Regions from separate parts of the Homo sapiens genome. Here all the other regions are reported to be linked to region 3. Evidence: microRNA targets listed by miRTarBase, many of them from high-throughput screens and not tested one by one. Region 3 holds a microRNA gene; each other region holds the end of a gene's coding sequence.
The links. The annotated mature microRNA hsa-miR-190a-3p reads CUAUAUAUCAAACAUAUUCCU and lies in region 3 at 1,430-1,450, shown strand. An mRNA with a match to its seed (bases 2 to 7 or 8) in the 3' UTR can be bound and repressed. Matches are read on the target gene's strand: a 7mer-m8 pairs with bases 2 to 8, a 7mer-A1 pairs with bases 2 to 7 and ends in A, and an 8mer does both.

Region 1 (3,092 bases), not on the chromosome of region 3:
TCTCCGATGATGCTGGAAAGGCCCTGGAAGAGAACACGCCACAGGGCAGAACCCAAATGCTAGAGCAGCTTGCTCCCGCCCGCCGCCTCAGCCCTGCCTCAGCGAGTCTCCCCGGGCAGGGCCGCTTCGCGCGGTTCGCACTTAAAGGCCTCGGAGGAGACTCCCAAAATGTCTAAAAAATTCGGCCGAATGGCTAGGTCCTTGGGACACTCCCTTCTGATTTTTTTCCCCCTACAGAGGTGAGGTTGAGCAGCCTTGAATCTGAGGGAAATGCCCATTGTCACTCCCAAATCCATGGTACAAAGCCTCGGAAGCCCGGCTGGGAGCCCAGACAAAAGCGGCCGGGGCGCCGGCAGCGGAGGGCATATTCCTTGCTCTACAAGTTGCCCAGCTCACCCTTGGAGGGCTCCCGGCCCACCTCCAGCCCCGAAAAGGAAGCGGGTAAATGGCTATTTATGGCCTGATTGATTACCTTTGCCAATAGCTTTCTGATTTTGTTCCAGATGGGATGCCTTTGCCTTGTAGCTCAGGCTTTCCTCGGATACATGGCCCGCTATCAACAGCTAATGGTATTCCCCACATGATCGGAGAAACGGCTAAATAAAAATTACCCTCCTCCTGCCCAACCGGTGTTAAGTCTGGGGCAAAGCTATTACAACGTTTTCAATCTAGCATTGATTCCAAGCCCTCTCCCCCACCCCCAGGAAATGGCCCCCTAAAAGAGTTCTGTCTTGGAATGTTCCTGGTTTTGGGGCGGAAGTTTAAAATTTTGAATGCCAGTGTCCCAGAGACTCCCTGGCTGAGGACTTATAGCACCTAAATGGATCGTTCTTAGGGAAACATTTAAAAGGAAGAAATGGAAAGGATGTGTTTTGTAAAACTGCTGGAAGCTATTTGAAACTGCAGGCAGGACCTCAGGTAACGAATTTTCTGTTAGCTTTCTCCTGCAAGGCCTCTTCTCCCTTTTCCCCGACAGGACTAGATAAGTCTGGGCTCTCTAGTGGAGATCCTGTTGAAGCCGGTGGAAGCTGGTGGGAGTCCCCTGGACCATGGCAGCGAATGGAACATTAGACTTCATGGGAAGTCATGTTCATTTGCAAAATTTTCAGTCACCCTTTCTGCATTTTCTTGCATCCCAGATGCAGCAGTTCCCACCAGCATTTTGTAATTAAATAGAGGAAAGACTGACTGGGGAAAATCTTTTCATTTCTTCCTTTAACAAAATTTCATGTGGGCCACTAAAAGGTAATGACTGAGCATAAAACCCGTCCACAAGGAGATCAAGGCGAAGTGGGATGGGAAAACTCACCCATCCTCGGCTTCTCTGGGGTCTGGCTGTCTTGCGCTTGGGATGGGGGTAGGGCTGAGGGAAAGGGGGCAGAATTGGATCCGCTGCAGTGCTACACTGCTGTTTGTCCTTGCTCCTGTAATGGAGGCCGGCAACTTCCAGGTGGGCAAGACTAGCTTCAACCTAGCCCCTGATGATTGCTCGCCAGCCAGAAATCACCAAGATGCCACTGAAAGCATTAAAAACAACACAACCAAAACCAAAGAGGAGAAAACACACAAATGGGAAGCTTTGAGGAGAAAGTGGCTTGGGGTATAGGCTTACTTACCAGGTTCAGGCCAGAGGAAAGCTCACACCCATTGAGAGCGCAATTATGTTACTATCACTGGGGACTGGGAAAGGAAAGAGGAGACTCCCCTTCCTCCCAATTATGAAAACTTCACTCTCAAGCTAGCTTATAATTCCTCTCCCCCAACCACTGCCAAAATCCAACACCCTAGGCCTCCTCCAGCTTTTCTCCCCCATCTCCCTTCCCCTACTAGTCTATCACTCCCCTGCCCAAATGCCCCAAACAGGGAGTGTAACCAGAAGATAATCTCACCATAGGCTTTCATTTCCACCATAACATATTTCCATTTCAGAAAGCAGAGGGAGTGAACTCATTTCCAGAGTTTATTGCATTATACATGCGACCAGAACATGCACAGAAAGGACAGGTTGCTGTTGTACTTCTACCAAACCACAGATGCACCACAAGGGAAAGGCTACAAGGCATAAATCGCCAATATCCCATCTCACCAAGGACAACTGCTAAATTCATTTGTGAAAAGATACATTGTAATGTGCTTTTTAAGTCCCCCTCCCTCCAACTTGTGGGTTTTCTTAATCTTTTTTTTTTAAATATATATGTCATTTTTAAAGTACTGGATGTATTCAAAATGCCATGAGTTCATGGACTAACCACACACATAGACCTTTTGTGTTAGGAAAGACATGAAAAAGTCACATTGCTGGATGGATGGATGGATGGATGCTCTACAGTTCCAATAAGTTAAGACCCAAATGAAAATGCGCAATAATAGTTACCCTGCATTACGATGAAAAAATAATAAATTACACGTGCTAAGTTTTTATATATATATATATATATATATATATATACTCATAGGGATTACAGATCACTTGCAGCACGAACATAATGACCCCAAAGTCACATTCTAGCAGGAAAACAAAATACAACAAAACAACAAACAAAGAGCGGTGAAGGTTTTGTTTCCGCTTTCCCAGTCCTCCAGCACTGGGCCCTGGAACGCGGTGCCCCCTCTCCAATCCTGGCCTCTGACCGGCCTCAGACCGGCCTCAGACCTAAGAAAACGTGAGGTTGGCGGTCAGTTCTCGGATCCGGTTCTCTCGGCTCATCTTCTTGAGTTTCATTCGGCGGTTTTGAAACCAAATCTTGACCTGCCTGTCGGTGAGGTTAACGCTCTTACTGATCTCTAGGCGGCGCTCGCGGGTGAGGTACATATTGAACAAGAACTCTTTTTCTAATTCCAGCGTTTGGTGCTTAGTGTAAGGGCACCTCTTCTTTCTGCCACTCTTTGCAGTGAGCCAATTGCTGGTTGGTGTATCAGACTTGATTTCCTCTAACAAAATTAAAGGGAGAAGAAGAAAAAAATCAAGAGGTTTTTTGTTTGTTTGTTTTTGTTTTTGTTTTTGTTTTGGTTTTGGTTTTGGTTTTCGTTTTTGTTTTTTTCTTCAGACTGTTCAAATGTACCCTTGGCCGTGACCCTGCTGGCAGCCAGGC
Region 2 (3,107 bases), not on the chromosome of region 3:
AATGAAGCCACTTCTGGATTGCTATGTGAGAAAAAAATAAATTATCTTACATGAGCCATCATATTTTGGGGTCTCTTTGTTACAGCAGTTTAGATCATTTTCTGATTTATACAAAAAGAGAATGAAAACATTAAGAAGGTAAGCTTATTTACCTTTTATGACCTTAAAATGTCCTCTGCTTGTTCTTTTGGGTTTTACCTTTAACAAGTATAAATAAGGTGCTTCAAATTTAATTGGCTGTAAGCAAGTAAGACCTTAAGACTACATGTGACCTTATGAATTCAGTGTGCTTCTCCCCTTTTCCAAAAATCAACCTACAGAATACAGTTGCATATACTTTTTCGGGATAAATGGAAGCGTTTAGTGTAAATGCATGAATATCAAACTGATAAATGAAAACTAAGATTGATATATATCAACTTCCCCTTTTTTCAACACAAATGTATATCCATGCACTATTCTAATCTACTACTCTGTAATCAATTAATCATAGACAACTGAATAAAGATAAAATGGATAAAGCAGACTTCGTCTCCCATAATGTGATGCAGAGATGATTATTTCTCGGACTCCCAGTTTCGTGTTACTCTATGCTTCAGAATAGTTCACTGTGTTGCTAAGACAACAAGGATGCTGCAACCGGAAACTGGGATTGAAGTCAAGGCACTGGAGCTGCCTCAAAAGATGTCATAAATAGTGTGTTCAAGGCCTTTTTCACAGTGAAACTGTAACTTTTGAATTAGAAAAAAAATTATTGGAGCCAAGCACGGTGGTGCACACCAGTAACCCCAGATACTTGGGAGGCTGAGGGAGGGGGATCGCTTGAGCCCAGGAGCTTGAGGCTGCAGTGTGCTATGATCATACCTGTGAATAGCTACTGCACTCCATCCTGGGCAACATAGCAAGATACCCATCTGTTAAAAAACAAAACACAAAAATAAACAGAAGAAGATTATACTCAATTCAACACCTTTCCACAGACTATGATTTTCAGTTATTCACATTCTAAGATTAAGAAAACATTGGCCTGTAATCCCAGCACTTTGGGAGGTGAAGTGGGCAGATCACAAGGTCAGGAGATTGAGACCATCCTGGCTAACACGGTGAAACCCCGTCTCTACTAAAAATACAAAAAAATTAGCCAGGCGTGGTGGTGCGTGCCTGTAGTCCCAGCTACTCGGGAGGCTGAGGCAGAGGAATGACTTGAACCCAGGAGGTGGAGACTGTAGTGAGCCGAGATCGTGCCACTGCACTCCAGCCTGGCAACAGAGTGAGACACCATCTCAAAAAAAAAAAAAAAAAAGAAAAAAGAAAACATTGGTATGTGGACTAAAGGTCAGGAAACCATCACTCCATATATACATATTACAGCTCCATGGAAATAACTGAGGGGAACTTGTCTTTAAATTCCAGTTTACCTTTATTCTAATAGAGGCATGTCTGAAGAGTATCAGAAGAAAACAAATGAAATTAGGTTGTCAGTTTTTCCTCCACTAACGATGTACATCTCACCTAAACAAAGGTTTGATTCTATGTAGTAAATAGGTTTGATGTTCACTGAGACCTGCGATTTGATACTTGGAATTTGAGTTTATAAAAAGATACAAAGAAATATGGTCTTCTCAATCAACTTTTGATAAAGGCACAGAAAGCTCATCAGTAGCAATGATGTGAGCTGGGTTGCATCTCCAGGTTTGTCTAAGCAAACTGCACAATGGCAGCAATCCTCCTGGTTTTAATACTCATAACATCAAGGCAAGGACAAAGAAAAAAAAATGCTTGAACTGATTTTGTTGTTTTTTTCTGACCTACAAAAAAAAAAAAAAATGAAAACAGCGTTTCACTAAGCTGAAGAGTGTCCTTCACATCATGTATATTGTATTGCACACAAACTTTTTTAACTCCGTCAAAAACAACAAGAACAGATGAATAAGGAAGCCCAGTGCTTTTTGAGATAGAAGCCTTCTTCAGAATCACCTCCCTCTCTTAAGAAGTAATCTGGTGAAAAATAATGGTTAGGCAAAGGCAGGTGTTGGAGGATATGTTTTCCCAATCTTTTAGAATCTCTTGCTTAAGAGACACAGAGGTGACTGGAGACTGAGTTACCAGTATACTATTCATTTTCCAAGCAGACGTCAAAAGATACTCTTTAATAGTGGAAACTGAGGGTTACACAGTAAGGTTCAGACTTCAGCAGGAATCCTTGTTGTCAAGTAAAAGTTTAACCTAGCAGAAGCAAATGAGACCCAGATGTCCTCACCTTTTTTTTTTTTTTAAACCCTGGTGTTCTAAGCATAAAAAAGGAAATAGAAAATAACACAGACCACTCTATTTTAATATTTTTAAGTAGCATAAATCATAATGGTTTGTATACTACACTGTACAAATAATATACTGTTACTTTTGAAAGAAAATGAACTTCTTATAGGGTTTTCTGAAATAGTTACTCCATACAGCTAAGATCTTGACCCTTTAGCCATTGCTACAGCAGATGGAATACAAGCTTTGAGGTTCCAAGTCTTCCAGTTGTGCCTGTTTCTGTTGCCACTGAGGGATGAGCCTCTCAGAGCCCTGTCGTGGCCCTGTCCATCTCCTGCGCCAGGAAACACAGGTTCCGCAGGTGGACGCGTGCCGATGAGTACAGCTTCTGTACTTTGCTTTCTACAAGCCTCCTTCCCCTTTAAGAGAACTTGCGCTTCTTCATGGCTTCCGCCTTGACCGCCAAGCTCTTGGCACAGATGGTCAGGACCACAATGAGAACGCCCACCACAAATGTCACCAGGGGCCAGAGGAAGCAATGCAGGAGGACAATCTCATCATGAGTGCGATGCAGAAGCACATCATCTGGTCTGCAAGACAATGGAGAATAAGAAAGAAAGGGCAGTCAAATGCCTTGGCACTGAAAAACTCTTTACAACCTAAAGCCAAACTTGCTTTCCATAACCATTATTGAAAGTAAAGGCTGCACTCTGACTATAAACACTGTATTTTTGTGCTTCAAACCCATTACAGAAAGTTTTGAGCTCTTGAGTCAAGTAATTGGTGCAAATTTATGTATTAATTATAATTTACATGTTACAAAGTGTCAAAAATGTATCTCTTATGCT
Region 3 (3,107 bases):
GGCCCTGGGTGGCAGTTTCAGTCCATACCAGCCCCTGTTTCCCACCCCATTGTCAGAGAAGGCTTGTCTAGTCCCACAAAGGCCATTTGTAGTTTATGTGTGCCCTTAGAGCTACTCCTCGAAGGAATATTATGCAGCTATAATATTATGCAGCTATGAAAAATAATGGTTGCTAGGACTGTGTAGCACGAAGAAAATGCTCATGGTATAACAGAAAGGATGCAGAATTATGTACTTATTATGATTACAACTCTAAAAACTCACAGATGAAGAAAATAAGTAGGGAATGTACAAGAATGATGATGGAATTGGGATGATGGAAGGGTCTGTGTTTTAACATTTTATAAAACAAAGGTTTAAAAAATAACAGCACCTTAAAAATTAATGACTGCTGAAGTAGGCCTGTGAGGACTCCCTACAGTACTCTAGGATCATATAGCCTTTGTGTTTACATTGAGGGTTTTTACAGGAAAGCCAAGGAGTCCTTCGGCCAAGGTCAAGGTTAACATAACTGATGATGTGAATCCTTTGTTTGAGGGTTCCTACCTTAGCTCACTCCCATCGTATTAGGAAGGGTGATGGGTACTTCTAGAATGCTTCACAATGGTCTGAAGTCTTTCTCTGCCTGATGGCCAGAGGTGGATATTATCTATGAAACTGTTTTGGAAAACCTGCAACCCAAACCATAGTTTTTGTGCCTAATAGGGCACATTGCAATAACTTTTGCATGAAATATCTTCCTTGCCTTTATAAAGGAATTTATTTCCCCAATTAAAAAACAATAACAACAATCTGCACCAAAATCAGCCAGTCTTTTGAGTTGAATCACTTCTCTCCATTCTCTCCCAAAACCTTAAAAAAATCCTCAGGGTACTGTCAGTAAACAATTGCTTATTACATCCCTATAACCCTACCCTGGTACACACACATGCCTTCAGTATAAAATGGATGTGTGTTCCTTCTGGGGAGTATTCACACTGCTTTCAGGAAGAGTTTGGGGAGAGACAGTAATTTTGTCTAAAATGCTCTGCTCACCACCGTCTCAGGTTGCCTGTTTTTAAAGGAGAATGGCTCATGGTCTTTGATGATGATTCTGGTACATTTCCACCTCAGGCTCTTAAAACTTAAGCATCACTTTTTGCCTGGGATCTCCCAGACATGCACCGTTGAATCTGCTGTTCACCTGGGGAGATGAGAATGTCAGTGAGCGCTGGTGCATGTGCTGACAGTATTGTTAATGGCGCCGTTTCCACATCTGCAGGCAGACTTGTGCTCCAAAGACAGTTATCGGAGTTGCTGCAAAAGTGACCACCCCCTGCAGCCGTAACCTTCAATACTGTGCCTAGTCTCGAGCTCAGTCAAACCTGGATGCCTTTTCTGCAGGCCTCTGTGTGATATGTTTGATATATTAGGTTGTTATTTAATCCAACTATATATCAAACATATTCCTACAGTGTCTTGCCCTGTCTCCGGGGGTTCCTAATAAAGTTTATAAGGCAACAGGAAAGAACACGTTAAAATCACAAGTAGATTTAGAAGATGGAGCACTCATTACAATTCATGTTATCTTCCATTTCTTCTTATAGCATTTGAGACCTGTATCAGTATTACTGGATTACTTGCTTATTATAGAAACAATAAGTGTTGATGTTTCATAAGAGCCTGGGGTATTCTGTGTGGCTTAGTTTTGTGCAGTGATGAATCCTTAAGGAATTCAATATGCTTGGTGGAAAAAACGGTTCCAACCCATGTCTGTGACACAGAATAAAGGTCAGGATTATAGCCTCAAACACATCTAGATTCATGTTTCATTTTGGTTCATTTTTATCCTGATCTTCAATTTAGAAGTTCATGTCAGGGTTTCAGCAAAAATTCAAGGAGCACAGATCAGTTTTCTATGACTTCCCTTTCCACTCACAGTAACAGAATGTATAAAGCAAATCCTCCATACCAGCTGCATGGATACTGAGTCAGTGAGCTTTGTACAAACCTTGGATATAGGACTAAATATATCTCATGAAGGTAATATAATGTTGACTGAACTCTTGAATTTCCTGTTATAGGTTAACTTGTCAGTGGAGGTTGGTAATATTTAGAATAAGCCAACAATCGGAAAGTAATATCATAGCCTAATTGACTGTGGCAGGAAGTTTGGGATTATGATATAGAAAACATTTTTTCTGGTACATAACAGCCTTCTTTGGTTGGTTTTGACCTCTTCCTTATAGAAAAGCCTGTGAAGTATGTGTGAGTTCATTCTGAGTTCTCTCAACAAACAAAATACTTTGTGAGCACTGCTTTCTGGAAAGAGAACTACTGTTCTCAATGTTTTGGAGGAGAAAAGGTGTAAGCAAATGGTTTAAACAGGTAGTCATGAAAGCTTCCCCTTACTGTGTCTAGAAGTCATTGCCACATTGCTTACAGGTGAATGCATAGTGACAGGGTCACCAACAGCAACATCAGAGAGGTGATGACACAGGAGAGGGTCCTGTAATGTTGGAGTCCTGGCTTCTGGAGTTACATAATGGATCCTGTCTCTGGAATCCTTCTCCATTGAGAAGCGATCTGTGTGTGTTGGCAGGTGCTCTGTCAGGCGGGTTTCAAGATGCTGCCCCAATCAGTCCCTCCTTCACACAGCTAGAGAACACCGGCTTTGGTTTTGAGTCCAGTTACATTGTTTGACTGAAATGGCAAATGGCCATGGAAAAGAGACAGCAAGTTATTACGAACAAAGAAAAACATGGTTTCAAAAGGACCTGCAGACGAAGCCCAGTTGTTTGAATTGATGTGATTTTCTTGTTTCTTTGGGTGACTTTGTCACTGACCAGCATGTTCTCTGTAGTGATTAATATGGTGAAGGGAAAAAGGAACCAACTGTTCAGGAAGGAGGAGGACAAATACAGCATTTTCTGTATGGCTGCACTTGGGCTTTGAGTGGCACTCATTGGTTCCAGACCAGGAGCATACAGGGTGTGAAAAGCAAGTATGGGGCCGGGCATGGTGGCTCACACCTGTAATCCCAGCAGTTTGGGAGGCCAAGGTGGGCGGATCATTTGAGGTCAGGAGTTCGAGACCAGCCTGACCAACAGCTGGGTTTCACCCAGTCT
Region 4 (3,107 bases), not on the chromosome of region 3:
TATGAAATAAGAGATGAGAGAGAGGTGGCAGAGGCGCAGACATTATTTCTTGGTATTTTACATGTATTTCTAAAAAATATTACTTTAAAAAAAAAAAAAGAGACGGACAAAGTGGCAGGCATGGAAGGCCCTGAAAAATCTGTTTCCTGTGGAGGGAGAAAGGCTTGGGAGAAAGAGAGAGAGAGGAAATGACCTGGGAGCCAATCCCACCTGCCAGTCTGCAGGGGAGAAAGGGCAGGTTTGGGGTGCTTGAACTGTGAAGATGGGAAATACAGCCAAGGGTCACGTTTAAAAAACCTGCTAGAAGTGAAGATCGGTGGAATCCTCCCAGGCTGTAATCCCTCAGAAACATGAGAATATCCTAAGCACCTACAACAGTGCCTGGTACATAAAAGGTGCTCGATAAATATTTGTTGAGTAAATTGTCATCTTTACTTGCATATGAACCAGTAACTGTCCCAGCCATGAAGGAGTGCAGAGGAATTAGTAGGTGTTCTTGGGACCGCTGGAAGTCAGGCTGAAGCCTCTGAGCGGCAACTCTAGCAGAGAGAAGGCCGAGGGGCCACGGTGTCTTCAGTTTCCCTCCTTCCTCCTCTCTGGCTACATTCGTCTCCAGGTGGGTGGAGCTGAGGAGGAATGCGTTTGCTTTTCTCTGTCTTCCCCGCTGCCCTCCCGGGGCAGGTGGATCATGAGAGCGCCTAGCCTCAGCCAGTCCTCGTCTGGGATGCCTGGGATAGGGGGATAGGCCTCCCAGATTAAGGCCTCATCCCCCCTCCTCAAGGCGTACTCTCAGCTGGCCCACTGCACATTCCAGGGGGAACAGGGCAAGAAATATCATGGAACTGGGTAGGTAAGGCCCCAAGGCTGACCACACCCTACATAAGACAAGTCCTTCTCTCTGCCCCTTACCCCAGGATGGCGAGGCAGACACCAGGCACAGACCTACTAACAGCCATCTCCCAGGCAGTCGCTACTCAACCCCCTTCACCCAGATCCCCACACCAAGCATCTCCACTGAGGCTGCATGTGCTCCACTGGTGGGTCCTCCTAGGGATGAGGTGGGAGGAGCAGAGGAGACAGTCTGGCACTGCACTGGGCACTAACCTAAGGCTCCACCGGGGGAAACCAATCTGATATCCCCTTTCCATCTCCCTCCTTCCTGCTTGACTTGCCAATGTGTCCTGCTGCTTCCCCCTCCTTCCACTCTGAGGATCTCTCTCTCTCTCTCTCTCTCTCTCTCTTTCTGTCTCTCTCTCTCTGCTACCCTTCCCAACCTGCCCTCAGACACTGCACAGACCTGCTGTTCTCTAGCCACAGCCAGCACTGTTCCCTCTGGGAGCCAATGGCCTCTCCCCATCTCTCATCACCTTGTCTTTGGCTCAAGCAGGGTGGTCAGTCTCCACCGGACCCCAGCGAGCACCCATAAGCAAAGCACTGGGTTTGTGTCAAAGCCCTGGGTCCAGCTGAGGCAGTAGGGTGGGGCTGACGAGGATAGGGATGATGACAAGTGCTGTCCTTGGTGTCAGGCTGGCTCCAGAGGCAGTGTCCATCTCCTCTTCACCTCTAGTCCTCACATAAGATAGCCACAGGTGTGTTCTCCACCACGGCATGTCCCCCATCAGGGAATGTTCCACTGGAGTCACCACAACCCCAGCCAGGGCAAGGCTGAGGCTCCCTGTGACTTGGACATTAATGAGGATGGTGCTCCCCACTGTCATCTCAGGCCCTGGCCCAGGACCACGGTGTGAGTAGTGATGGCTCCAGGGCTGGGCATGGTGGGTGTGTGGACACTGAGGTATCCACGGTCCTCTGGCAGCAGCCCATGGCCCCAGCCTGGCTCCCTGCGGCATTCCCATGGGAGTGCAGGGGCAGGGGGCCAGGGTGGGGAGCCAGGACCTCAGGTGGGCAGAGGACGGCTTCAGAATGTGGCTCTGTGGAGCTTCACAGCATTGGCCTCAGCCAGGGCTTGCACTGGAGAAAAAAGAAATGGAGTGAGAAGAGTGCTGCACAGAGGAGCAAGGACTCCAGCCAACCTTCCCAGGAAAAAGAAGCCTCATCCTGCAAAAACCTGGCAGAAACCCACTCCGGTCCCTCAGTCCTGAGAGGGGAACAAAGGAAAGGAAGTCAGTGTTCTTTTCTACTTGACTGAGAGTGAGCGGCTGTGGGCTAGGGGCAAGGGAAGGGTTCACAGCCTTTGGCCGTAGTTGTCAATGTTATTTTAATTTACAGTAAGATCTGGGAGTGGAGAAACAGCTTCTGAGGGCTTCTGAAGGTTCTGCATCTGTGTATCTCAACAGATGGAAAGCTTGTCAGCAGACAGGAGGCACAGGGGTGGGGTGTCAGGGAAGAGCCTTCCCTGAGAGCAGACAGGTGAGGTCTCGGCTCCATTCCCTGCCTGCTTCTGGAGAAGCAAAGGCCATTGGCATCACAACATCCAAGAAGCGGCCCTGCCAGCTGGCTCCAGCCCAGCACTGCGTGGGGAAGCTGGATGGACGGATGGATGGATGAATGGATGGATAGTGGGGAGGAGCAGCACAGGGCACTGGGGTAGGGGAGAAGCAATACCAAAATGAGAGGGCATAGATGGCTCAATGGGGGTGAAGGAAGGGGCCCCACTCCCGAGGTGGATGAAATACAGTAGAAAAGTGCTTACGTCAGAGCTCAGACCCGCATGGTATAGCTGCTGTCGGCGCCCCGTGGGGATTCAGACGACAGGGGGTTTGCTGGAGGAGCCGGGGAAGCAGGGGAGGTGGGAGGGCTTGGGGTGGCACATTGCACTGGAAACAGAAATGAACAGGGAGGTGAATGGGGGTGGGTGGGGGAGGAGGGTGGGCACCCAGAGCAAGCGAGGCCCTCCCCAGGCAGGGAGTGAGGCAGGGAGGCAAGCGAAGAGAGAGCACTGAGCTTGGAGCTTGCTCAAGCTAGGCCAAGCTGTCCTCATTCCCAGGGCGTCGTGGAGGAGAGTGTGAGGCCCCAGAGGAGACCTGGCCGAATCTAGGCTCTGCTGAGAACCAGTGTGACTGTGGGTAAGGCCAGGCCATCTCTGGGCAAAGGGCTCCCCTCCCATCCACACAATGGGGAGATTCACACACCTCTCCACTACTGTG

Region 1: the mRNA of HOXD10 is a reported target of hsa-miR-190a-3p. Seed matches in the 3' UTR shown: 7mer-m8 at 2,442-2,448, 7mer-m8 at 2,440-2,446, 7mer-m8 at 2,438-2,444, 7mer-m8 at 2,436-2,442, 7mer-m8 at 2,434-2,440, 7mer-m8 at 2,432-2,438 and 7 more.
Region 2: miRTarBase lists KCNMB4 as a target of hsa-miR-190a-3p. Seed matches in the 3' UTR shown: 7mer-m8 at 410-416.
Region 4: miRTarBase lists PLEKHA6 as a target of hsa-miR-190a-3p. The part of its 3' UTR that is shown has no 7-base or 8-base seed match.

What each region holds. Positions count from the first base shown.
Region 1 is chr2:176,118,793-176,121,884 of GRCh38, reverse strand. It overlaps HOXD10 (homeobox D10), which reads right to left. Exons shown (of 2, transcript NM_002148.4): 2 at 1,948-2,931. The coding sequence ends at 2,654. Among named protein-coding and RNA genes, the nearest start is that of HOXD9, 2.4 kb to the left of the region's middle.
Region 2 is chr12:70,430,227-70,433,333 of GRCh38, reverse strand. KCNMB4 (potassium calcium-activated channel subfamily M regulatory beta subunit 4) reads right to left here. Exons shown (of 3, transcript NM_014505.6): 3 at 1-2,849. The coding sequence ends at 2,681. Among named protein-coding and RNA genes, the nearest start is that of PTPRB-AS1, 36 kb to the left of the region's middle.
Region 3 is chr15:62,822,579-62,825,685 of GRCh38, forward strand. It overlaps MIR190A (microRNA 190a), which reads left to right and starts at 1,379; the gene lies at 1,379-1,463. The region is part of intron 54 of TLN2 (talin 2); the gene reads left to right.
Region 4 is chr1:204,220,809-204,223,915 of GRCh38, forward strand. It overlaps PLEKHA6 (pleckstrin homology domain containing A6), which reads right to left. Exons shown (of 23, transcript NM_014935.5): 22 at 2,654-2,777; 23 at 1-1,971. The coding sequence ends at 2,662. Among named protein-coding and RNA genes, the nearest start is that of GOLT1A, 8.4 kb to the left of the region's middle. RefSeq lists enhancers at 1,293-1,794, 1,795-2,294.